3 separate regions of the Homo sapiens genome follow, and all the other regions are linked to region 2. The links come from fine-mapping of genetic effects on gene expression. A gene starts in region 2. Each other region holds a variant in brackets. All regions are shown on one strand. Distances are from middle to middle.

The links. PIP is the estimated chance that this variant, and not a neighbour inherited with it, causes the effect.
Region 1: its variant is fine-mapped to the expression of SBF1 in whole blood (TOPMed, PIP 0.99).
Region 3: its variant is fine-mapped to the expression of SBF1 in transverse colon (CEDAR, PIP 0.95). The same link has a PIP of 0.9 or more in CD4 T cells.

What each region holds. Positions count from the first base shown.
Region 1 is chr22:50,343,898-50,354,094 of GRCh38, reverse strand. All of the region lies in intron 1 of PPP6R2 (protein phosphatase 6 regulatory subunit 2), which reads right to left. Among named protein-coding and RNA genes, the nearest start is that of PPP6R2, 5.7 kb to the right of the region's middle. The variant T/C (reference allele first, on the strand shown) is at 4,351.
Region 2 is chr22:50,470,445-50,480,641 of GRCh38, reverse strand. It overlaps SBF1 (SET binding factor 1), which reads left to right and starts at 5,607. Exons shown (of 41, transcript NM_002972.4): 1 at 5,607-5,856. The coding sequence starts at 5,802. RefSeq lists enhancers at 4,445-5,354, 6,265-7,174, 7,175-8,086, 9,845-9,904 and silencers at 5,451-5,655, 5,236-5,695, 6,116-6,245.
Region 3 is chr22:50,444,381-50,450,098 of GRCh38, reverse strand. PPP6R2 (protein phosphatase 6 regulatory subunit 2) reads right to left here. Exons shown (of 24, transcript NM_001242898.2): 24 at 5,009-5,718. SBF1 (SET binding factor 1) reads left to right here. Exons shown (of 41, transcript NM_002972.4): 37 at 1,449-1,556; 38 at 1,655-1,866; 39 at 2,490-2,577; 40 at 2,646-2,777; 41 at 2,859-5,099. The coding sequence ends at 2,957. Among named protein-coding and RNA genes, the nearest start is that of SBF1, 28 kb to the left of the region's middle. RefSeq lists an enhancer at 4,652-5,498. The variant GAA/A (reference allele first, on the strand shown) is at 3,282.

The DNA of each region.
Region 1 (10,197 bases), 130 kb after region 2:
GACCCCAGGTGATCCGCCCACCTCGGCCTCCAAAAGTGCTGAGATTACAGGCATGAGCCACCGCGCCCGGCCTCCCAGTCAGCTTTTCTAAATAAAATTGTATTGGAACATAAACAAGAACACACAAATGCCTGATACATAATCAGTTATCGTTACAATTCCAAAATGTATTCTTTTAATTTTCTTTGTTCTTCCTCTATTCTTCTAGGGAATCTATTAAAATTTTTTAAAAATATTTTTAAAAGTTAGCCTTTCCCTTAACAAAAAAAAAAAAAAAGGGAGAGGCTTTTGAGTCACACTACCTGGGGTACAAATCTTGCCTCTATCATCTACTTGCTGTTTATTTCCATTTCCTCATCTGTGAAATGGAAAACAACACAGGCGTACTTTGTCTAACGTGCTTCCCTTCATTGTGCTTCGCAGGTAATGTGCTTTCTACAAATTAAAGGCTGGTAGCAACCTTGCGTCAAGCACGTCGAGGGGTGCCATTTTTCCAACAGCATGTGCTTACTTCGTGTCTCTGTGTTGCATTCTGGTAATTCTCACAATATTTCAAACTCTTTCATTATTATTTTATCTGTTATGGTGACCTGTTATCGGTGATGTTTGATGTTACTATTTTAATTGTTTTGGGAAACTACAAACCGTGCCCATATAGGATAGCAAACTTAATAAACGCTGCGTAAGTTCTGACCGGCCATTTCCCTGAGTCTCTCCCCCTCTCCTCAGGGCTCCCTACTCCCTGAGACACAACAGTAATAACGTAATAACGTTAGGTCAATTAATCCTGTAGGAAAGGAAGAGTCACATGTCTCTCATTTCGATCAAAAGCTAGAAATGCTTAAGCTTAGTGAAGAAGGCATGTCAAAAGCCGACAGGCCAAAAGCTAGCCCTCCTGCACCAGTTTGCCAAGTTGTGAATGCCAAAGAAAGGTTCTTGAGGGAAATTAAAACTGCTACTCCAGTGAAGACATAAATAATAATAAAGCAAAGCAGCTTTATTGCTGACACGGAGAAGGCTGCTTTCTGTTTGGAGGCAGGTCTTACTCTGTTGCCCAGGCTGGAATGTAGTGGCACCATCACAGCTCACTGCAGCTCTGACGTCCCAGATTCAAGCCATCCTCCTACCTCAGCCTCCCCAGTAGCTGGGACTATAGGCATGCACCACCACATTCAGCTAAACTTTTATTTTGTAGCGATGAGGTTTCACTGTATTACTCAGGTTGGTCTCAAACTCCCGAGCTCAAGCGATCCTCCCCACTCAGCCTCCCAAAGTGCTGGGATTAGAGGTGTGCGCAACCGTGCCTAGCCTGCAGAAAGTTACGTTGTTGTTGTTTTGTGTGTTTTTTTTTTTTGTTTTTGTTTTTGTTTTGAGACAGAGTCTCGCTCTGTCACCAGGCTGGAGTGCAGTGGCGTGATCTTGGCTCACTGCAACTTCCACCTCCTTGGTTCAAGCAATTCTTGTGCTTCAGCCTCCCGAGTAGCTGGGACTACAGGCACGCACCACCATACCCAGCAAATTTTTGTATTTTTAGTAGAGATGGGGTTTCACCATGTTGGCCAGGATGGTCTCCTCCTGACCTCGTGATCCACCTGCCTCAGCCTCACAAAGTGCTGGGATTACAGGGGTCAGACACCGCACCCAATGCCTGCAGAAAGTTTTAATGGTTTGGAGAGAAGACGAAACCAGACTTAAATAGTCTACAGTAAGGCCCTCACTCTTTTCAGTTCTACAAAGGATGACAGAGATGACGAAGCTGCAGAAGAAAAACTGGAAGCTAGCGGAGGTTGTTTCATGAGGTTTAAGAAGCCACCTCCATAACATACTAAAGTGCAAGGTGAAACAGCAAATGCCGGCCGGGCGCGATGGCTCTTGCCTGTAATCCCAGCACTTTGGGAGGCCGAGGCGGAAGGATCACTTGAGGTCAGGAGTTCAAGACCAGCCTGGCCAACATGGTGAAACCCCGTCTCTACTAAAAAATACAAAAATTAGCTGGGTGTGGCCGGGTGCGGTGGCTCACGCCTGTAATCCCAGCACTTTGGGAGGCCGAGGCAGGCGGATCATGAGGTCAGGAGATGGAGACCATCCTGGCTAACACGATGAAACCCCGTCTCTACTAAAAAATACAAAAAAATTAGCTGGGCATGGTGGTGTGCACCTGTAGTCCCAGCTGCTGGGGAGGCTGAGGCAGGAGAATGGCATGAACCTGGGAGGCAGAGCTTGCAGTGAGCCGAGATCGCGCCACTGCACTCCAGACTGGGTGACAGAGCAAGACTCCGTTTCAAAAAAAAAAATTAGCTGGGTATGGCGGCGGCTACCTGTAATCCCAGCTACTCAAGAGGCTGAGGCAGGAGAATCACTTGAACACGGGAACCAGAGGTTGCGGTGAGCTGAGATGGCACCACTGCACTCCAGCCTGGGTGACAGAGGGAGACTCCATTTCAAAACAAAAAACAAAAAACAAAAACAAAACAGCAAATGCTGATATAGAAGTTGTCGCTAGATCTGGAAGATCCAGCTAGGACAATTGATGAAGGAGGCTATGGCAAACAACAGATTTTTCAATACAGATGAAACAGTCTTCTATTGGAAGAAGGTGCCATCTAGGATTTTCATAGCTAGACAGGGTAAGTCAACGCCTGGCTTCAAAGCTTGAGTGCACAGGCTGACTCGCTAATGCAGCTGGTGACTTTTAAATTGAATGCTCATTTATCATTCTGAAAATCCTAGGACCCTTAAGAATTATGCTAAATCAGGCCGAGCGCGGTGGCTCACTCCTGTAATCCCAGCACTTTGGGAGGCCAAGGCGGGCGGATCACTTGAGGTCAGGAGTTTGAGACCAGCCTGGCCAACATGGTGAAACACCATCTCTACTAAAAATACAAAATTAGCTGGGCGCAATGGCACATGCCTGTAATCCCAGCCACTAGGGAGGCTGAGGCAGGAGAATCACTTGAACCTGGGAGGCTTAGGTTGCGGTGAGCCAAGATTGCGCCATTGCACTCCAGCCTGGGCAACAAGAGTGAAACTCTGTCTCAAAAAAAAAAAAAAAAAAAAAAAAAAAAAAACACTGTTGAGACCTACTGCTCAGAAAAAAAAGATTCCTTTCAAAATATTACTGCTCATTGACCATGCATCTAGTCACCCAAGAGCTCTGATTAAGATGTACAAGGAGACTAATGTTGTCATGCCTGCTAACATACTCCATACTGCAGCCCATGGATCAAGGAGTAATTTTTTTTTTTTTTTTGAGACGGAGTCTTGCTCTGTCGCCCAGGCTGGAGTGCAGTGGGGCAATCTCGGCTCACTGCAAGTTGCGCCTCCTGGGTTCATGCCATTCTCTTGCCTCAGCCTCCCAAGTAGCTGAGACTACAGGCGCCCACCACCACACCCGGCTAATTTTTTGAATTTTTAGTAGAGACGGGGTTTCACCGTGTTAGCCAGGATGGTCTCGATCTCCTGACCTCGTGATCTGCCTGTCTCGGCCTCCCAAAGTGCTGGGATTACAGGCGTGAGCCACCGCGCCCAGCCTAATTTTCTTATTATTTCAGAAATACATTTCAGGCCGGTCGCAGTGGTTCATGCCTGTAATCCCAGCAACTTTGGGAGGCCAAGGCAGGCAGATCACCTGAAGTCAGGAGTTCGAGACCAGCCTGGCCAACATGGTGAAATCCCATCTTTATAGAAAATGCAAAAATTAGCCAGGCATGGTGGTGGGCGCCTGTAATCCCCGCTACTCAGGAGGCTGAGGCAGGAGAATCGCTTGAACTCGGGAGGCAGAGGTTGCAGTGAGCCAAGATTGCACCACTGCACTCCAGCCAGGGCAACAAGAGGGAAACTTCGTCTCAAAAAATAAGTAACAGAACTAGAAGTAGAGCCTGAAGATGTGACTGAATTGCTGCAATCTCAGGATAAAACAGATAAGGAGCTGCTTTTAATGAATGAGCAAATAAAATGGTTTCTTTTTTTTTCTTTTTGAGACAGAGTCTTGCTCTGTTGCCTAGGCTGGAGTGCAGTGGCACAATCTTGGCTCAGTGCAACCTCCACCACCTGGGTTCAAGGCATTCTCCTGCCTCAGGCTCCCGAATAGCTGGGATTACAAGCATGCACCACCACGCCTGGCTAATTTTTGTATTTTTAGTAGAGACGGAGTTTCACCATGTTGTTCAGGCTGGTCTCGAACTCCTGACCTCAGGTGATCCACCCGCCTCGGCCTCCCAAACTGATTACAGGCGTGGGCCACCACACCCAGCTGCTTTTTTCTGTTTTTTTTTTTTTTAAGATGGAGTTTCACTCTTGTTGCCCAGAATGGAATGCAATGTTGTGATCTTGGCTCACTGCAACCTCCGC[T/C]TCCCGGGTTCAAGCAATTCTCCTGCCTCAGCTGGGATTACAGGCGCATGCCACCACGCCTGGCTAATTTTTTGTATTTTTAGTAAAGACGGGGTTTCACCATGTTGGCCAGGCTGGTCTCGAATTCCTGACCTCAGGTGATCCACCTGCCTCAGCCTCCCAAACTGCTGGGATTACAGGCATGAGCCACTATGCCTGGCCACATTCTGCTTTTGTGGGTGTGCTTTTATTTATTTTTGGCAGAGATGGGGCCTCACTATGTTGCTCAGGCTGGTCTAGAACTCCTGGCCTCAAGTGATCCTCCCGCCTCAGCCTCCCAAAGTGCTGGGATTATAGGCACGAGTCACCACGTCCAGCCCGTTTTTTTTTTTTTTTTTTTTTGAGACAGGGTCTCACGCTGTCGCCCAGGCTGGAGTGCAATGGAGTGATCACAGCTCACTGCAGCCTTGACCTCCCCAGGCTCAGGTGATCCTGCCACCTCAGTGTCCGAGCAGCTGGGACTATAGGCGCACACCACCATGCCCAACTTTTTTTTTTTTTTTTTTTTTTGAGAGGAAGTCTCACTCTTGTCGCCCAGGCTAGAGTGCAATGGCACAATCTCGGCACACTGCAACCTCCACCTCCCAGGTTCAAGCGATTCTCCTGCCCCAGCCTCCTGAGTAGCTGGGATTACAGGCGCCCACCACCATGCCTGGCTAGTTTTTTTTGTATTTTCAGTAGAGATGGAGTTTCACTATGTTGGCCAAGCTGGTCTCGAACTCCTGACCTCAGGTGATCCGCCCGCCTCAGCATCCCAAAGTGCTGGGATTACAGGCGTGAGCCACTGCGCCCGGCCCTGCTTTTTGTTTTTGTAGAGATAGGGTTTTGTCATGTCCCCAGGCTGCCCTGGCCTTAAGTGATGCTCCCACCTCAGCCTCCCAAAGTGCTGGGATTACAGGCGTGAACCACCGCACCCAGCCCATGTGCTTTTAAATAAATAGCCATCCCCAAGGCTTTATACCTTGCCCCCATGATGACAGTTGTATACCTGCGGCTTGGCCTCTCCTCTGGGTTCCAGACCCTCCTGTAAGATACCTTCTCCCTAGTGACCCTCGGACTTCTCAGACTTCCCCTACTTTCAGCCAAGAGAAAGCCTTGCTTTCTACTTCCAAACTGTAGTAACACCCCCAGCCCTGACACCACCCTAATTCAGCTTCCCTATTTCAATAAACAGTGCTACTATCCACCCATTTGTTCCATCAGAAAGCCTAGAAGGGTTGATGGGGCTGGGAGGATAAAAGCAGCCCAGAAATTACCCTGAGTCCATTCATTCTCTCACACCTCTCTTCTCATCTACCAACAAGTCCCAACAGCTCTACCTCCAAAATATCTCCCTAAACCCACCACCAAGTTCTAAACCATTACAATCACTACACCCAGCTCCCAACACTTCATCTCACCCCCACCTGCTGTCCACGTGCCAATGTCCATATGATCATGGCACTCTCCAACTCAATCTCCAGGCCAGGTTTCTCCTACAACTCAGACTGAAGGTCCAACTCCCTACTAACACCTGCAAGGAACGGCTTAATGAGAAAACCAACTTTCCAGCCCAGGCTCCTGCCTCTCTCTCCCTTACCATAAGCACATCAGTCTTATCTAGGTTCCTGGAGGATATCACACCCAAAATTTCCCACTTCAGGGCCTTTGCATGTGCTGTCCTCTCAGCATGGGAGACTCTGTCCCCCAATTTGTCTCAAAGCTAGCTGCCTCTCACATTCCAAAGATTAACTGAAGTGAGTTAGAAAAGTCAAAGGGGAGAGATATATACACCTATTGTGTACCCACAACATTTTAAAGTAAAAAATAAAAACAAAGGGAAGATAAACCAGAAAAAGGGACATCAAAAAGAGGTGAAGAGCCTCTTTCAGTGAACAGTGAACAGTGTCGGCAACTGCAGGGGCAAGGAGAAGCCAAGAGCAGGGCAGAGAGAGGCCATGAGGGAAGGGTGGATGAAAGAACAAGACACAGGAGAAGGGTCTAGAACAAAATCAGTGGGTACAGTGACAAAGAGGGGGCTGCAGTGAAAGGCAGGGACTAAATGGAAGTGACAGACTTGGGGGAGCTGGTGCTGACAGGTCAGGGAATGAGCAGCAAATTGGGAGGAGTCAGTAACAAGAGAGTGGACAAAGCAGGTAGGGAAGCTGCGAGTACACAGAGTGGCAGGTCGGGGGACAGTACGGTGCATGGGGGAAGGTGACAGGCTGAAGGAAGAGATGATGGGGATGGAAGCAACAGGGCAGTGCGGGGTAAGGTGAGGTTAGATGACTGGTGATATCTCAAGCCGTGATGGGGAGCGCGACAGGAAAAGACGAGTAGTGTTGGAAAGGGTTAGGAAATAATGGAAAGGGGAATCAGTGATTGGACAAGAGGGGTGATGACAGCGGGCACTGAAAGTTCTCCCACTGACAGGCAGGAGAGAAGCAGTGGGGAGACACTGACAGGTGGGGTCACTAACAGCAGGGCAGGGTACTAATGGGTCCCTAACAGATAAGGGATGAAGGAGGTAGCATGAAAGGGGACAGGAACTGACAACAGGGGAGAACTGATGGGGAGGATCTGACAGGCACTAACACAGAGGCCGATAGCAAAGAGCGGAAGGGCCACAACAGGCAGGATGAGGGAGACACTTATGAGGGAAACTTACTGACAGTGGGGCTCACTGACAGAGGCACTGGCACTGATGGGGGGCACTGACAGAGAAGATCAATGACAGGTGGGGACATTGCTGACAGAAGGGGTCACAGAGCGCTTGGACTGACAAGGAAGGGCACTGGCAGGGGAGGGATTATGCGGTCAGTGACTGACGGGTACGGGTGGGGGTGCAGGCACTGATGGGAAGTGGGGACATGACAGAAAGAAAATAATTGACTGGGGGGGCACTGGCTGACGGGGGACAGGGATGCGGGACTCTGACTGGGGGACACTGATGGGGAGCAGAGTGGACTGACGGTGGGGGAGCACTGACCAACAGTGGAGGCACTGACCAGTGCGCGGACTGACAGATGCGGAGGCACTGACCGACAGGAGGAGCATGACTTGCAAGGGGCACTGACTGACGGTGGGGGGCACTGATGGGTGGGGTGGGGACTGATGGGTGAGGTGCAATGACTAGCTAGCAGGGGACACTGACTGGTGCAGGAAGCACTGACTGGTGTAGGGTGGGGGAACAGAAGGAGGGCACTGACTGGGGGGGCACTGACTGACTGGGAGGGAACTGACTGGAGGGGGCCCTGACTTGGGAGGAAACTGACTTGGGGGGCACTTACTGGAGGGGAACTGACTGGAGTGGGCACTGACTGGGGGCACTGATTTGGGGGGCACTGACTGGAGGGGGCACTGACGGGGGAACTGATTGCGGGGGGAACTGACTGGGGGGGCACTGACTGAGGGGAACTGACTGGGGGACACTGAAGGGGGCACTGACTGGGGGGAACTGACTAGGGGATGCACTGACTGGGGAGAACTTACTGGAGGGGCACTGACTGGAGGGGACAGTGACTGACTTGGGGGGGGCACTGACTGGGGGGCACTGACTGACTGGGGGAACTGACTGGAGGGGGAACTGACTGACTTGGGGGGCACTGACTGGGGGGCAACTGACTGGGGGAACTGACTGGAGGGGGCACTGACTGGGTGGGTCACTGACTGGAGGGTTCACTGACTGGGGGGAACTGACTAGAGGATGCACTGACTGGGGGGAACTGACTGGAGGGGGGCACTGACTGGGGGGGAACTGACTGGAGGGGGCACTGACTGGGTGGGTCACTGACTGGAGGGTTCACTGACTGGGGGGAACTGACTAGAGGATGCACTGACTGGGGGGAACTGACTGGAGGGGGGCACTGACTGGGGGGGAACTGACTGGAGGGGGCACTGACTTGGGGGGCACTGACTGGGGGGAAACTGACTGGAGGGGGCACTGACTGGGGGGGGGAACTGACCGGGGGGGGGGAACTGACTGGAGGGGGCACTGACTAGGGGGGCACTGATGGGGGGAACTGACTGGAGGGGGCACTGACTGGAGGGAAACTGACTGGGGGGAAACTGACTGGGGGGGAACTGACTGGAGGGGGCACTGACTGGGGGGAAACTGACTGGAGGGGGCACTGACTGGAGGGGGCACTGACTGGGGGGCACTGACTGGAGGGAAACTGACTGGGGGAAAACTGACTGGGGGGAACTGACTGGAGGGGGCACTGACTGGGGGGAAACTGACTGGAGGGGGCACTGACTGGAGGGGGCACTGACTGGGGGGCACTGACTGGAGGGAAACTGACTGGGGGGAAACTGACTGGGGGGAACTGACTGGAGGGGGCACTGACTGGGGGAACTGACTAGAGGGTGTACTGACTGGGGGGGGGAACTGACTGGAGGGGGCACTGACTGGGGGGGGAACTGACTGGAGGGGGCACTGACTGGGGGAAACTGACTGGAGGAGGCACTGACTGGGGGGGAACTGACTGGAGGGGGCACTGACTGGGGGAACTGACTGGAGGGGGCACTGACTTGGGGGGGAACTGACTGGAGGGGGCACTGACTGGGGGGAATTGACTGGAGGGGGCACTGACTGGGGGGCACTGACTGGGGGGAAACTGACTGGGGGGGCACTGACTGGGGGGAACTGACTGGAGGGGGCACTGACTGGGGGAAACTGACTGGAGGAGGCACTGACTGGGGGAAACTGACTGGAGGAGGCACTGACTGGGGGAAACTGACTGGAGGAGGCACTGACTGGGGGGAAACTGACTAGAGGGGGCACTGACTGGGGGGGAACTGACTAGAGGGGGCACTGACTGGGGGGGAACTGACTAGAGGGGGCACTGACTGGGGGGGAACTGACTAGAGGGGGCACTGACTGGGGGGGAACTGACTAGAGGGGGCACTGACTGGGGGGGGAACTGACTGGAGGGGGCACTGACTGGGGGAAACTGACTGGAGGAGGCACTGACTGGGGGAAACTGACTGGAGGAGGCACTGACTGGGGGGGAACTGACTGGAGGGGGCACTGACTAGGGGGAATTGACTGGAGGGGGCACTGACTGGGGGGCACTGACTGGGGGGAAACTGACTGGGGGGGCACTGACTGGGGGGAACTGACTGGAGGGGGCACTGACTGGGGGAAACTGACTGGAGGAGGCACTGACTGGGGGGAATTGACTGGAGGGGGCACTGACTGGGGGGAATTGACTGGAGGGGGCACTGACTGGGGGGCACTGACTGGGGGGAAACTGACTGGGGGGGCACTGACTGGGGGGGAACTGACTGGAGGGGGCACTGACTGGGGGAACTGACTGAAGGGGGCACTGACTGGGGGGGGAACTGACTGGAGGGGGCACTGACTGGGGGGAATTGACTGGAGGGGGCACTGACTGGGGGGCACTGACTGGGGGGCACTGACTGGGGGGAAACTGACTGGGGGGGCACTGACTGGGGGGAACTGACTGGAGGGGGCACTGACTGGGGGAAACTGACTGGAGGAGGCACTGACTGGGGGAAACTGACTGGAGGAGGCACTGACTGGGGGAAACTGACTGGAGGAGGCACTGACTGGGGGGAAACTGACTAGAGGGGGCACTGACTGGGGGGGAACTGACTAGAGGGGGCACTGACTGGGGGGGAACTGACTAGAGGGGGCACTGACTGGGGGGGGAACTGACTGGAGGGGGCACTGACTGGGGGAAACTGACTGGAGGAGGCACTGACTGGGGGAAACTGACTGGAGGAGGCACTGACTGGGGGGGAACTGACTGGAGGGGGCACTGACTGGGGGGAAACTGACTGGAGGGGGCACTGACTGGGGGGGAA
Region 2 (10,197 bases):
ACTTGGGACCCCTACCCTGGTCTGGGGGGGAGCCCTCTCCTGACTTGCCCTGGGCACACCTAGGTGTGGCTATGTGAGGCACACACATCCATGTGTGCAGATTTGCAGTAGGACTGAGACCCCGTTCTTTCCTGAGAGCTTGTTTGGAGGTCCTGGCAGAGGAGCGCAGCTACTCGAAGCCCGGTCCTCCATCCTCTTCGATGGAGCGTGCAGCTTCGGAGGGACGCACAGGGAACAGTGGGGAAGGAGGGGGACACCTGCCTCTGAGCCAGCCACATCAGCCGAATCAACACTGGTGACCAGTGGGGTGACAGGCGTCACAGCCCGACCGTCCTCACATCAGAGACCCCACTCTTTCCTATGGTTGGATCTACTCCAACATATAGGTGTTGTATGATTCATCTCATCTGCTATTAATATGAAATTAGGTGACTGCCAGTCTTTTCATGAGTTGCTGCCTTGAGCTCACAGATGTGTCTATAGGACACCTTCCTGGAAGTAGAAATTCTGGTTGAAGGTGAGCATGTGTTTATGTTGATAGATGGTTCACTGTTCTCCACAGAGCTTTCGCCTACCCACTGTCCACGAGTCCTGGACTTGGTGTCACGGGTTCCAAGCTGCTGAGACTGGCCTCTCTGTTGGGTGAGCTGAGGATCTCTGCGTCCGTTCGTGCTTCCCCTTCTGTCTCCCCAACCCCTGCGCTCACCCCGTAACCCTCCTGCTGACACACCATGGGAGCACAGTCAACATTTGCTGGGTGAATAAGTCGAGGAGTGCCGAGCACACACCCCACAGGCCGATCTGGGAGGGCAGGGATGCCTTGCAGGTATTATTTACTTATTTTGACCAGTTGAGGGGGCAGGGAGTGTCACATTTATATGTTTTTTTTTTTTTTGAGATGGAGTCCCACTGTGTCACCCAGGCTGGAGTGCCGTGGCGAAATCTCAGCTCACTGCAAACTCCGCCTCCCAGGTTTAAGCGATTCTCCTGCCTCAGCCTCCTGAGTAGCTGGAATTATAAGTGCCCACCACCACGCCCAGATAATTTTTGTATTTGAGAGAGGGTTTCACCATGTTGGCCAGGATGGTCTCGAATTCCTGACCTTAGGTGATCCACCCACCTTGGCCTCCCAAAGTGCTGTGATTACAGGTGTGAGCCACTGCACCCAGTGTTTTGTTGTTGTTGTTGTTTGTTTGCTTTTTTGAGATGGAGTCTCACTCTGTCGCCCAGGCTGGAGTGCAGTGGCACAATCTTGGCTCACTGCGACCTCCGCCTCCCAGGTTCAAGTAATTCTCCTGCCTCAGCCTCCCAAGTAGCTGGGGTTACAGGCGCCTGCCACCACACCTGGCTAATTTTTGTATTTTTAGTAGAGACGGGGTTTCACCATGCTGGCCAGGCTGATCTTGAAGTCTGGACCTCAAGCAATCCGCCCACCTCTGCCTCCCAAACTGCTGGGATTACAGGTGTGAGCCACCAAGCCCGGCCAAGTGTCACATTTATGTTGAAAGGTGGAGGGGCAGCCAAGAAGGCAGGTGCTGGGGAGGCAGGCAGAAAGGGCTTGAGGGGACAGAGTGGATGGGTGGGAGAAATTTAGCGGGGCAGGACGGGAAATGAGGGGCTCAGTTCCCGGCGAAGCCCTTCTGTTTGCTGATGTGGCAGCTGCTGAGGGGGTGGGAAGAGGTCGGGGCCTGGACATGCTGAGGCCGAGCTGCCTGGGGGTTGTCCAGGGAGAGGGGTCTGGTCGCTCCCCAGCCTGGCAGGCATGGGACTAAAGATAAGGCAGGTCGAGAACAGTTTTGGGGTTTCAGGGATGGCGCAGCCATGGAGGATATGGTGAGCCTCATCCACAGAGAATGCGGAGAGGCTGGCCAAGGATGGAGCCCAGCGCCAGCTCTGGAGGGGCAGGTAGGGAAGGGCCTGAGCAGGGGATCCCCCAGGTTCCCAAATCTGCTGCTGCGGCTTCTGCTGCTGCCTCCCCACTCGGCCCTCAGCCTTCCACACTGCCACCAGCTCTGTCCTTTCAAAACACAAGTGCAATCAAATCGTTCGCCCCACCAATAAAGAAAAACCAGCAAAAATTCCCTGTCCTCAAGAGGCTTTTTTTTTTTTTTTTTTTTTTTTTTTGAGACGGAGTCTCGCTCTGTCACCCAGGCTGGAGTGCAGTGGTGTGATCTTGACTCACTGCAAGCTCCGCCTCCTGGGTTCACGCCATTCTCCTGCCTCAGCCTCCCAAGTAGCTGGGACTACAAGCGCCCTCCACCATGCCCGGCTAATTTTTCTGTATTTTTAGTAGAGTTTCACCGTGTTAGCCAGGATGGTCTCGATCTCCTGACCTCATGATCCGCCCGCCTTGGCTTCCCAGAGTGCTGGGATTACAGGCGTGAGCCACCGTGCCCAGCCCTCACAAGGTTTTTAATCTGGGACAGGTGGAGGACAGCCCCAGCGAGGGGCTGCGTTTCAGGCCCTGAGATGACAGGACAGTTGCTGCCCCTGTGAGCCACAGTCCTGCCTCCCGCCAGCTTGTGGGGAGGGTGTATCCTCTGCCCTCAGGCATCAGCCTGGCTGCTGCTTCTGCACCTGCCCAGCCCACCAGAGAGGAGGCCCCGTCTGTGATTCCCAGGGTCCCTGGTGCTTGTTGCATGTGAGTCCATTCTTAGTTGGAGAAGCTGCTTCTGGGGAGCGACGGGGCTGCCCCAGCACCGCTTATGATGGACACAGGTGAAGGGGAGACACAAGTTTCCAAATGTGCGAGGGCTGGGCCATAGGAGGGGGCGGTGGCCTTGGGGAATGCTTGTGAGAAGCAAAAGAAGCTAGGGTGGCAACTGGCTGGACAAACAGCATCTTGGGGTTTTTTCCTTTTTTTTTTTGAGATGGGGTTGCGCTCTATCTCCCAGGCTGGAGTGCAGTGGCGTGATCTCGGCTCACTGCAACCTCCGCCTCCCGGGTTCAAGCAACTCTCCTGCCTCAGCTTCCCGAGTAGCTGGGATTACAGGCACGCGTCACCATGCCTGGCTAATTTTTTGTATATTTAGTAGAGACGGGGTTTCACCATGTTGTGCAGGTTGGTCTCAAACTCCTGACGCCAAGTGATCCACCCGCCTGGGCCTCCCAGAGTGCTGGGATTTACAGGCATGAGCCACCACGCCCGGCCTTTGGGGGGTTTTGTTTGAGTGTTTTATGATGGCAGAGGTAAGTTTGACTCTGATAGCAAGGAATCCATAGACAGGGAAGGATGGAGTTTGGCGGCGGGCACTGACAGTGAATGATGGCCTGAGATGAGGAGTGGGCAGGGGGGCAGAGCCCTGTGGTAATGGAGGGAGGGGTGGTGTGAGAGGTGTAAGATGGGGGCTTGGTGCTCCCATCTGATAGCTTCTATTTGCTCTCTGAGGAGCAGCCAATTATCTCAGAGACACTGGAAGTGGGGTGAGAGGTTCGAGGAGAGTGCAGACTGCAAGACAGCTGACCAGAAATCAGCAGGCTGGGCGGTAGGGAGGGGCATCCATCCATCTGAGACACTGAGCCACTGTGGATGGTTGTTCCCAAGGGCCTGGTGGAAGCATGACAGTGGAGAGAGTGCGACGCAGGGTCCCCAGAGTCTCAGAGAGAGTGGAGAGTGCGGTGCAGGGTCCCTAGAGTCTCTCCGAAGAGAGCCAGCCCTGGGCTCAAGCACTAGCCCAGACTTGCCCCGGGCCCCTGCCAGCCTGCACACAAGCTCAGTGGTGTGGTAGTGTGGTGCTGAGGACCTTTTTGGGTACAAGTGACAGAAACCAACTTGAGCCAGCTGGGGCAAAAAGGAGGATTTCTGGCAGGGCACAGTTTCTCACACCTGTAATCCCAACACTTTTTGAGGCAGATGCAGGAGGATCATTTGAGGACAGGAGTTCAAGACAAGCCTAGGTAACTTATCAAGACCCTGTCTCTACAAAAAAATTAAATTTTAAAAAGATGATTTCTCAACCTGTGAAAACCAACAGTGGGAGAGGAGAGGCGTAGCGTGGCCTGTGCCTGAGGGCAGGGAGGGGACCCTGGTGGGGCCTCTCAGTTTGATTCCATTCATTCTCTTGGGCTGGCTCCTGCCCATGGATGGAGACTGGATGCCAGTCATTTGGCCAGTTCTTGCAGCAGCCAAACTCATTTAAAAACAGACCTTCAGGGCCAGGCGCGGTGGCTCACACCTGTAATGCCAGCACTTTGGGAGGCCGAGATGGGCGGATCACGAGGTCAGGAGATCGAGACCATCCTGGCTAACACAGTGAAACCCTGTCGCTACTAAAAATACAAAAAATTAGCTGGGCGTGGTGGCAGGTGCTTGTAGTCCCAGCTACTCGGGAGGCTGAGGCAGGAGAATGATGTGAACCTGGGAGGCGGAGTTTGCAGTGAGCCAAGATCACGCCACTGTACTCCAGCCTGGGCGACAGAGCGAGACTCTGTCTCAAAACAAACAAACAAAAACAAACAAAAAACAAAAAACAGACCTTCGGGCTGGGGGCGGTGGCTCATGCCTGTAATCCCAGCACTTTGGGACGCCATGGTGGGTGGATGGCCTGAGGTCAGGAGTTCAAGACCAGCCTGGCCAACATGGTGAAACCCCCTCTCTACTAAAATACAAAAATTAGCCGGGCATGGTGGTGCACACCTGTAATCCCAGCTACGCGGGAAGCTGAGGCGGGAGAATTGCTTGAACCCAGGAGACGGACGTTCCAGTGAGCCAAGATGGTGTCACTGCACTTCAGCCTGGGTGACGGATTGAGACTCTGCCTCAAAAACAAAACAAAACATAACAAAAAACAGACCTTGGCCTGCTGTGCTCAGAGGGGTTTCCCTGCTGCACCAGGCTGGCTCCTGCACCTTCTCTCCCAGCATGTTCTGCTCTGGGCTCATGCTCATCCCTGAGCCACTTCAGGGGTGGCCCTGGCCAGCCCTGCCCTTGAGAGGGGTGGGCACTGTCAGGGATCCTGGGGGATGCAGCTTTCCCAGAGCCCCCTGCTCCGTGGCCTCATGTGCCTCACACGCTTAGAACATTTGCTCTTTACAGGGGGACATGAGCGTGCCGTTTTTAAGCTGTGTTAAATGTCTCACTTGGCCTAGATGGGGGCTCTTCAGCCTGGGACCCCAAGGGCAGGGCCTGAATTCTCTCTCTGTTCCCCATCGCCAGGCTGGCAGCCCCTGAGGTGATGGCCCTGCGCCTCCTCTGACTTCTAGTTTGGGGGGCCCGGTAGGCAGCGCCTAGGCTTCTCCCGCCTTTCTCCCGCTGGACAGAGAGGGGCGGGGGACGAGGAGTCTGGGGACCCGATCCCCAGATTGGGACGGCCCAGGGGTGGGGTTCGGGCTCCTGTGCGGGGAGTCCCAACGGCGAGGGCAGCTGTGGTCCTGGCCCATGCCTCCCGCCGACACCACAGCCGACCCGGGTCAGGGCGTCAGACCCGCCGGAGCCGTAGTCCAGGTGCCCGGCCCGAGGGGCGGTGCTCGGGCCCCAGAGTGGTCAGCGATGGGCGGGGCGCTGCTCTCGGGAGCCGCCCTCCCACCCTCTGGACCAATGGAGATGCGCGGTTGCAGGCCCCGCCCGCTCAGGGCTTGACGACAGCGCGCAGGCGCACGGCGCGCCCGGGCGGGCCGGCTGGCTGGGAAGATGGCGGCGGGAACCTGGGCCGCCGCCGCCGCCGCCGCCGCCGCCGCGGAGCGAACCAGGGGTGTCCGGGGTGCGCGGTCCAGGGCCGGGGCCGGGCCATGAGCGCGCCGTCCTCGAGTCCCCGAGCCGCGGAGCCCGCCCGCGCCCCTCGGGCCGCCCCGCGTCCCTCGCCATGGCGCGGCTCGCGGACTACTTCGTGCTGGTGGCGTTCGGGCCGCACCCGCGCGGTGAGTGCCGAGGCCAAGCGCTGAGGGCCGGGGGCCGAGGGTCGAGTGCTGAGGGCCAGGGGCTGGGTCTGAGGGTCGAGGGCCGGGGGCTGGGGGCCGAGGGCTGGGGGCTGGGTCGGGAGGCCGAGGACTGAGGGCCGGGCGCTGAGGGCCGAGGACCGGGGGCTGGGCGCTGAGGGCCGGGGTCGGGGGAGCCGAGGACTGAGGGCCGGGGCCGGGGGCCGGGCGGGGACTGAAGGCCAGGGCCGACCGGACAGCCCGTGGGGAGAATGGGCGTCCGCTGGGGGCGGCGTGGCCGCGCGGGCCTGGTGGCGGCAGGGAGAGAAGGCTGGGCCCGGCCTGCCCGGCCTCCTTGGGGTGGGACGGGCTCTCTCCTTGGCCAGCTGCGGGCGGCTGTGGCTCTAGTGGCTCCAGGGGCGCGGACCCGCGGCTCGCCAGCCCGCCTCTGACCTTGGTGCTCCGTCTGAAGCCCCCGGCGGTCTTGGCGGGGTGCAAAGAGGGGGTGGAGTTCGGGTTTGGTGCATGGAGAAGCGGTGTTTGATTTGAAACTGGGAGGATTTGAGGAGGAAGCGTCGAGAGTAGAGAGAAGAGCATTCCTGGCGACTCGCCTGACGGTCCAGGCCCTGCACGCCAAGCCCTGGGTGGGGTATCAGCGTGGCGGTCGGTGCCCATGCCCAGGAGGTCTGTGTGTGGGGTCAGCGCCCGTGTCTGAGAGCTCTTCAGCCCAGGAGGTAGGAGAAAACGGAGCCTGACGATGACATCAGCAACAGCCTGGAGACAGCAGCGTTGGCGAGCGTGCTTGGTGTGCCAGGCCCCGCACAGCCCTTTGTGTACATGATCTCACCTCTTCCTCCCAGCAGCCCACCGGGGTTGCCCTGGTGTTGCCCCCATCTGTAGAGAAGTTAGGCGCGGATAAGCTGACTGCCTGGCCTGAGCCGGCTCAGAGAGGCTGGGACTGGCACTCAGGCTGTCAGATCCCAGCTGCAGACTGGCAGTGTGTGGGGATGGCTGTGTGGTCAGGCAGGGGCTGGATCTTGAGCCTGGAGGTGGGATTGAGCTTGCCTTCCCAGTTACCCTGTTTTTTGTCAGTCCAGTTGTCACTGTCCCCACCAAGGACCTGGAGTTCTCTCTTTTTTGTGTTTCTTCTGCTGGACACCCCCCTACACTTCCTGAAGCCTCTTTAGCATCTTCTTCGTCTCCAGCCCCTCCTCAGTGCCCTCTTACTCAGCACACACTCCTCTCTGCTCATGTCTATCCAAGTGTGTGTCTTATGGCACCGTCAGTCATGAGCATCTGTCTTTTTCTTTAGAGAGGGAGTTCTCGCTTGCTAGGACCACATAGTCCTCATCCCCACTGTGCAGGTTGGCTGTCAATGTTGTCTTGACCCACAGAGGGAGCTGTCTGCACCGAGGCACCTATGAGGGGCATGGAGGAGGCCTTACCACCTGGGGCAGAGGGTGCCTGAGGATCCAGGGAAGCAAGGCTGGCTGAGGGCTGTCTTGGCGTGAGGGGCCTTGGGCTGAGGGCTGGGGCGGGGGCTACAGGAACAGCTGATAATGACCCTGATGATCCTGAGGGCAGTGTGGAGAGGGTTTGGGTTGGTAGAGACTGCAGGCAAAGGCCAGGTGGGAGGCGTGGTGGCCGTGGGGTGAGGAGTTGAAGGTAGGCAGAGAGAAGAGGCAGAGTGGGCTCCACAACAAGCTGGCTGTGACGTGTGTGCTCACTGCTGGAGCCACACGTAGTGCAGGCACCTGTTTGTGTGTGTCCTTTGCGCAGGACAGGGTAGAAGGCTGGAGCCCAAGGTGCCCCCCCTTCCCCTAAGTGACCGGAAGGAGTGATAAGTGGTCCACTGCAGTAGGGTTGGAGGACCGTGGAGCCCTGTACCCACTACCTTCTGGGGTTGAGCTGGTCAGCTGCTTGCTGGCCTTGCAGCCCCAGGCACCCCTTAGAAGGACTTGTTCATTCTTGAGGGGAACAAGGCTATAGACTGGGACCCTGGTCATGGGCTGAGGGCAGAGCCAGGTACCAGGGCCGGTGGGAGCTGGGGGAAGAAGCAGAGGAGTGTGGCGTGGGGGTCACTTGTCTCTGCTTTGCCCCTTGATAGCCTTGTGACTTCGAGCCAGTTGTTTGGCTCTCTGTGCCTCAGTTTCCTCATCTGGGGATGGAGTGAGTCATGCTAACCTCCCAGGCTGCCGTGAGGATGCAGCGAATGCACAGGTGTGAAGCAGTAGCACACAGGAGGCCCTGGAAATGATGAGTTTCTTTCATTAGTGACTGAGCAGCAGGTGTGTGAACTCTCTAGGCACAGACACAACAGGCACTTCTGAGTGGGTAGAGGATCCTCTCTGTTCTGTCAGGCTAGGACTTCAGGGCGGGATGCAGGGTCTCTTGGGTTGGGGATTAGGATTGGCGGATAGCTTGTCTTGGCCTGGATCTGGACATCCTGTCTGGAGCTGCTGGGTGCAGCACCAGGGTGCTGAGGGTGCATGAGTCCTGCCTGAGGCAGCATCCCAGTTGCTAGTGGTTACCAGCTGGAAACCTCTCAGGAAAGGTGGGGAGGGGCCCTGAGAAGGTAAATGCCTGTGCTGGCCGTGACCCTTTCACCTCAGAGAGTGATGGTGGCCAGCGCTGGCCCATCTGCAGGCCCCTCACCTGGTGAGTCAGGGATCACCTTCTGTGCTCTGGGGCAGGCATCAGGACTAGACAGACTGCCTCTGCCCGGCTCTTGGCCTGATCACAGCGTGGCCAGTGCTGAGGTGTCTTTGAGAACAGGAGACACATTTGATCTGGCCCTGACCTGGCCATCGGCCTTCCATCTCCAGCAGCTGAGTGTGCATCTGCCTGGGAGGAGGGGCTGGACCCCTTGGATCTGAGAAAAAGACCTTTCACCCTATGGCCTCGCCTCTCCTCCTGACTGTGATGTGCTGGCTGCATTCTTGAGCCCCATCTACTGTCCCCACCCACGTTCCTGCCCTCCCTCTGGAGCGGGTTGGGGCTGTTTGGGATGGCCTCAACTGCCTCCCAGCCTCCACCCTGGGAGCCGGAAGGGGTCCAAGGCCTTGGGTCAGAACTGCTCAGGTCTGATGGGCAGGGGAGGTTGGGGGGGATGGCTGTGGAAGCTGCAGGGGCCCTGCGCATGGCCTGCTGCTGCGGCCGAGGGAGCCATGTGCACGTTGGGGTTGGGTGGGTGGCGTAGCAGGAAGGTGCTGTCCTTCCTTCTTTTCTCTTTTCCTATAGCTGGGTTCCCCACAAGCAGCAGAGCCGGCCAGGGCTGGTCTTCGTGCACTGTGGGGAGTGTGGTGGGGAAACAGGAGAGGCTGCCATCCTTCTTTGCCTCCCCACAGCACACGCTGGCCTGGGCCAGCCCTCCAGGCGTCAGAGCCTGGCACTGATGATGGGGTGCTGCCAGCAGATGACAGAACGCGAGGTCTGTGTTCGCCTGCCCGCCCGCCCGCCTTTCAGGCCTGCCGTCTGCGTGGGGCTGGCCGCAGGGACATTGGTGCAGGAGGGAGTGCTCTTTGAGGGGCTTTCAGGACAGAAGCCCCAGTGTTGTCCTTAGGTGGCCCCCTCAGCCCCATGTTCAGAGGTGGAGGTGGCAAGGAAACCTTGGTGCCCAGTGCCACCCAGCACACCGTTTGGATTCGTCCTGTTGCCAAGGGGAGGAGTGGGGAGGGCACCCTCCCTCCTGTGTATTCTGAGGTAAAGGCAGCACTCTGATGGGCAAGGAGCTCAGCTGCTGGAGGTCACTCCTATGGCAATAGAGCTTCAGTGGGTGGGGGACCCTGGGAAGATGTGGCAAAACCCCCCACATCCCCCTGGAGGCCAAGATGTGGCCTGGCCCCGGACAGCACAGAGCTGAGGTGCAGGCTGGGACCTCAGAAGGGTGAGGAGGAGAGCTGCTCACAGCTGAGGGCTGCAGGGCCCTCCATGGCCTGCCTTTCCAGGGGCCAGCTGTGTTCTGTCATTCCCTGGGGCTCCGGAAGGTGCCCTGTACTTCCGACTGAGGAACCTGTTTGCTTGTTGGGTGTGGGGAGGATGGTTGTGTAGCCGACTGTACGTGTTCTACAAGCCCTAATTAGCCTGTGGTCCGTCCCAGCCAAGCCAACAGGTGCACTAGCAGTCACTGGGGTGTGGTGGAGGGAGGTCGGTCCTAGGGTCCCTGTAGGCCCCAGGCTGGGGCAGAGTTTCCCAGGGGAGGGGGTGCTCTGTGGGCTGAGACCTGAAGGGCCAGTCTGGGGCTGTCATGGCACAGAGGAGCTCAGGGAGAGGTGCCTGCTTGGCCTGGCCCACTTGGGCCATTGGGCCAGCCCAAGGAGAGTGGAGCTCAGGGCTGGCTCTTTG
Region 3 (5,718 bases), 28 kb after region 2:
CTCTGTGGGCTGCCCTGCAGACCCAGCTGCACTAGCGCCCCTGGACGTCCCGTCTCTGCCTCCTCGGCTCAGCAAGCTCCCGTGTGTTGCTCTGGCCCTGCCTCCCTGCACTGTGGCTGGGCAGAAAACAGGTGACTGTGGGGCCCATCTTATGTGGTCCCATGTCTTAGGCTCCTGTCTCTCAAGCTGCACTGCTTGTCTGACATCTGGAAACAACGGCTTCCCCTTCTTGTCCAGTTTCATCATTTGCATATGGAGGGAGGGCTGTTCAGACTAATTATCTGTCATGGCTGGAAGTTGACAGTTGGCCTCGTGTTTCTCTTTTGAAGTCAGCCGTCAGTTTTATTGTTGCTCTTTCAAAGAGAGCATGTCTTTTTTTCTTCTGGCAGGTTTTGGGACTTTTCTCTTTGTTTTTCAGCAGTTTTTCTGTCCCATTTTGGGGTGTGTGTGTGTGTGTGTGTGTGTGTGTGTGTTTGTGTGTTTTGAGACAGAATCTCACTTTGCCGCCCAGGCTGGAGGGCAGTGGTGTGATCTCGGCTCACTGCAACTTCCGCCCCCTGAGTTTAAGTGATTCTCCTGCCTCAGCTTCCTGAGTAGTTGGGATTACTGGTGCCTGCCACTGCGTCCGGCTAATTTTTGTATTTTTAGTAGAGTTGGGGTTTCACCATCTTGGCCAGGCTGGTCTTGAACTCCTGACCTCGTGATCCACCCGCCTCGGCCACCCAAAGTGCTGGGATTACAGGCGTGAGCCACCGCGCCTGGCCCTAAAATCACTCTCTTGAATTTACTGTATGTTCTAACTCCTGTTTCATTTCAGGGTCTATTTTAATGTTTTTCTCCATTTTTCTGCTGTTCTTTTATTGTAAGCTGGACATTGTGGACCCTGCAGTGTTGAAGATCAGTATTGTGTGGTCTTTTTTTTTTTTGAGAAGCAGTTTTGCTCTTGTTGCCCATGCTGGTGTGCAGTGGCGCGTTCTCGGCTCACCGCAACCTCCGCCTCCCAGGTTCAAGCGATTCTCCTACAGGCGTGCGCCACCATGCTGGGCTAACTTTTTGTATTTTTAGTAGAGATGCGGTTTCTCCATGTTTGTCAGGCTGGTCTCAAACTCCTGACCTCAGGTGATCGGCCTCCCAAAGTGCTGGGATTACAGGCGTGAGCCACCACGCCTGGCCGGGGTGTGTGTTTTTAACTTACCCTGTTGGGGTCTGTAGTGCTTCTTGATTATGTTGTTTGATGCCTCTGGTTAGTTTGGGAAATTTTTCAACTGTTGTCTCCGAATATTCATTTTGCATATTCCTTCCCTCCCTCTTGCCACCTCCCCCTGTGGCCAGTCACACACGCGTTAGGCCTTTCCGTTGTGTCTCTTTCCTGTGTTTTCCTTTTGTCTTTTCGTGCTCTAGTCTGGATATTTCCTTTTGAATAAACTTGCCATTAATTCTTCCCCCAGGAGCTGCAGAGGCTGGAGACAGAGTTGGGCCAACCCGCTGAGCGCTGGAAGGACACCTGGGACCGGGTGAAGGCTGCACAGCGCCTCGAGGGCCGGCCAGACGGCCGTGTGAGTGAGGGCCAGTGTGAGCGTCCACGGTGGGCGTGTTGCTGGGAGAAAGTGGAGTCTGTCCAGCCCTGACCCAAGTCCCAACCTCCTGTTCCCAGGGCACCCCTAGCTCCCTCCTTGTGTCCACCGCACCCCACCACCGTCGCTCGCTGGGTGTGTACCTGCAGGAGGGGCCCGTGGGCTCCACCCTGAGCCTCAGCCTGGACAGCGACCAGAGTAGTGGCTCAACCACATCCGGCTCCCGTCAGGCTGCCCGCCGCAGCACCAGCACCCTGTACAGCCAGTTCCAGACAGCAGAGAGTGAGAACAGGTATGAGGGCACCTCCCACTGCCACATGGACACCTCTGAGCTGGTGTTCTGGGGTCCCAGGCAGTCCTCTGGTGGGAGATTGCGGGTGCTTTTGAGGAGCTTGCTTAAGTATACACCACCACTGGGAGGGGTTTGGGGTGTCGAACTGGTGACCACAGCTGACCACAGCCTGCAGTGGCTGAGGGAGGAGTAGAGAGAGGGCAGTGGTGGGGCCCCCGTGAGTCTGGAGTCTGGCAGGATCCATCCCAGGCAGCTGCTGCCGTGGCTGCTTCTACAGATCTACCTGCCTGGCCATCCCTCTCCTCGTAAGGGCGCCTGCCCTGTGTAGGGGGCTGCTTTCCCAAGACCCTGAGGCTCTGGTGTGGGGATGCTCCCTGGAGTCTGGAGGGTGTGAGGCGCCCTTCACTGTCTCCTTTCTGGGCGTCGTCTTCTTGGGCCTGCAGCCCCCCATCAAAGGCTTCTTTGTGGCCCCCTGGCCAGTGCTCTGGGCTTAGGTCAGTTCTGGGGACAGGGTGCCTGGTCTTACCTCCTGGGCTGGGACAGCAAGGGGGGGACGACTGCTGGGGCCTGGGCTTGGCTGGGCCATGACGGTCAGCCTGGCCCTGGTTCTGCTGGAAATGCAGGTCCTACGAGGGCACTCTGTACAAGAAGGGGGCCTTCATGAAGCCTTGGAAGGCCCGCTGGTTCGTGCTGGACAAGACCAAGCACCAGGTGAGTGATCAGGTGGTGGGGGGGACTCACGGGGGAGGGGGCTCCGCTGACTCTGTGGCCTCCTCCAGCTGCGCTACTACGACCACCGTGTGGACACAGAGTGCAAGGGTGTCATCGACTTGGCGGAGGTGGAGGCTGTGGCACCTGGCACGCCCACTATGGGTGCCCCTAAGACTGTGGACGAGAAGGCCTTCTTTGACGTGAGCCTTGGCCGGGGCTTGGGAGAGGGGAGGGGCTCTGCGGTGTGGGGGCTGCGGAGTCAGTAACCCGCCCTTCCCCAGGTGAAGACAACGCGTCGCGTTTACAACTTCTGTGCCCAGGACGTGCCCTCGGCCCAGCAGTGGGTGGACCGGATCCAGAGCTGCCTGTCGGACGCCTGAGCCTCCCAGCCCTGCCCGGCTGCTCTGCTTCCGGTCGTTACCGACCACTAGGGGTGGGCAGGGCCGCCCCGGCCATGTTTACAGCCCCGGCCCTCGACAGTATTGAGGCCCCGAGCCCCCAGCACTTGTGTGTACAGCCCCCGTCCCCGCCCCGCCCCGCCCGGCCGGCCCTAACTTATTTTGGCGTCACAGCTGAGCACCGTGCCGGGAGGTGGCCAAGGTACAGCCCGCAATGGGCCTGTAAATAGTCCGGCCCCGTCAGCGTGTGCTGGTCCAGCCAGCGGCTGCAGGCGAGTTTCTAGAACCAGAGTCTATATAAAGAGA[GAA/A]CTAACGCCACGCTCCTGTGCCTGCCTTCCCCACTCCCCGGCTGCCTGCTCTCGGCCTACCCAGAGGGTCCCATCTGCCCCTATCCAGGCCCACCTGGCGGGAGGTTGGCATCTTTCTCGTGAGCCTCTCCTGGTGCCTGGGTCCACCCAGCTCGGCCTGCATGTCCCTGGGAGTGACTTTGCTCTGGGGGCGGATCGAGCAGGAGGCTTCACTGGGGACTTGCTTGATTCCCTCCACGCCTCAGGGCTGGTCTAGGGGCCGGCACGGCTGGAGAGGAAGCCCCCATCCCTACCCAGGGGATGCAGAAGCTGACCTCACAGAGGCTTGGGGGTGAAAGGGTGGGTGGTCATTTGACCCCAGAAGGCTGTTGCAGGTCCAGAGGACACTTGAGGTGGACGTCAGTTTCTGGCTAGACCCGAGCTGAAGGGATGGAGGCCGGAGGCGGGGGGGGGGGGGGGACAGTGGGCTCCCAGGGGAATGCAGGTTGACCACATCTGGCTCCTGCCAGGCAACGAGCAGCATCTGGCAGAGTAAGGGGCCAACGCCCATGGGGGATGGACCCTCTCAGTTCTTGGGAATTCTGCCCCAAAAGTCCTTTCCCTGGGGTCTCAGAGGGCCCCCGTCCTTCCCTTCTTGGTGTCACTGTGGCCCCTCACTGCTCTTTTCCTATTCAAACCTGAGTCCCACCAGGCCCAGGGCTTCACCTGCTGAGCTGTTGTGTCCTTGCCTGTGACGAGGCCTGGCCAGGGGTGCAGGAGCAGAAGGTGGGGAGGGTTATAGACGCTGCAAAGGCCAAGAGAACATCTGAGAGTGGCAGCTGGTGACCTGGCCAGAGGGGCTGGTGAGGGGCAGAGAACCTGGCTAGAGGCTGGGTCCCTCAGGTGGTCCTCTCAGGTGGGAGGCGAGCAGCAGGTGTGGGTGAGGGGAAGGTTCTGATGACAGCTGCAGAGGCAGGGCCCAGTGCTGGCAGGTGGGGGGCCAAGACCCTCCCCTGGTGGGACGTTGAAGCCAAGGATGGCCTTGGACCCTGTCAGGCCCAGCATGGTCCCGCCACCTCCCCCACCCCACAGGTGGTGTTGGGACACCTGGGCGAGATGTGAGGGTGGGCTCACTTGAGCCACTGAAACCAGCCAGGTCTTCCCTCAGGCCGGACAGATGGCGCCTGACCGAAGTTCCTGGCACCTGGAAAACCCACAGGTCAGAGTAAGGGGAGAAAGGACCCTGCCCTCCCTGTTCCACGTCTGTGGGGGGAGAGGACAAATGCCAGGCACAGGGTAGGCGGCGAGAACAAGGCACTCAATGTGTAGCTGGGGCAGAGACTCGGCCTCTGGGGAGCTGAGCGGGTTCCCTCCACCCCCAACCGTGGTGGAAAGACAAGCTCGCTGGGGCGGGGTGGGGGTCTGGTCTCCACCTGCCCCTCCCACTCAGCCACTGAGGACAAGGTGGGGCCCAGGCTTCTGGGAGGGGGAGCTGGCACAAAAGGAAGTCCTGGGGTTGATGTGTTTGAGCGTTAGGCGAAGTGGTTCCCCCCATCCCCCAAACGGAAAAATGTCAGTATTTGCTAAGCTGTAGAGACCTGATGCCGTGATGTGGCCTGTTCCGCCTCCACCCATTACACGGGGATAACGCTGGGGGGTGGCGGGCCCACAAAAGAGGTGCTGGAGGAGACTCTCCCACCCCTGGCCGGGCCGGGGCTTTGGGGCCGGAAGGTTCACAGTACGCGGTTTGTCCGAACGTCACGGCTTTTATTGGGAGTTGGGGGTTTGGGGTGCCCTGTCAGGTGATCAGAACATTAAAAATGGACTCAACGTAAAATAATCTTCTGGACCCTTCTAGGACGACATGGCCGTGACCGGTAGTGCTAGAAACCAGTCTTCGAGCCCCTAGTGCCACACCATGTCCCCCCACCTGCATACCTGTGGTCTCCCCCTGCCAGGCACCCTGTGCTGGGCACAGGGACATCCCTGCCAGGCCTAGAGGGCCTTGTGTTTTTAAGGCAGTCAAATCTTGCAGCCTGGTTCAGTGCCAGCTCCAAGGGCTATTGGGTAGCTGCAAGGGTCAATTATGCATTCCTGTGAGTCAGGTTTTTCCAACCCAGGCCCTTGACTCTGCCCTGAGCTTGCAGCTGGATACAAAGTGCAAAAAAGCTTGGCTCCTTCTGTATTCTTTAAAAACAAAACAACAACAAAAAAAAAACTGTAAAAACAGCCTCCATGTCCACGCCCTTCCTGGCCCATCAGGTCCTGGTGGCATCTCAGGGTCCTGCCCCCCCCACCCCCACCCCCACCCCGGCTCCTGCAGGCCGACCTTATTGCTGTGCTCTGGGCTTGGGGGCGGCTGAGGTGCCCCTCTGTCCTCCAGCAGGGCACGAGTGACCTGAGAGGCCCACTCAGGCAGAAGAGACGCAAGCTGGGCCGTCCAACTGGTTTCAACT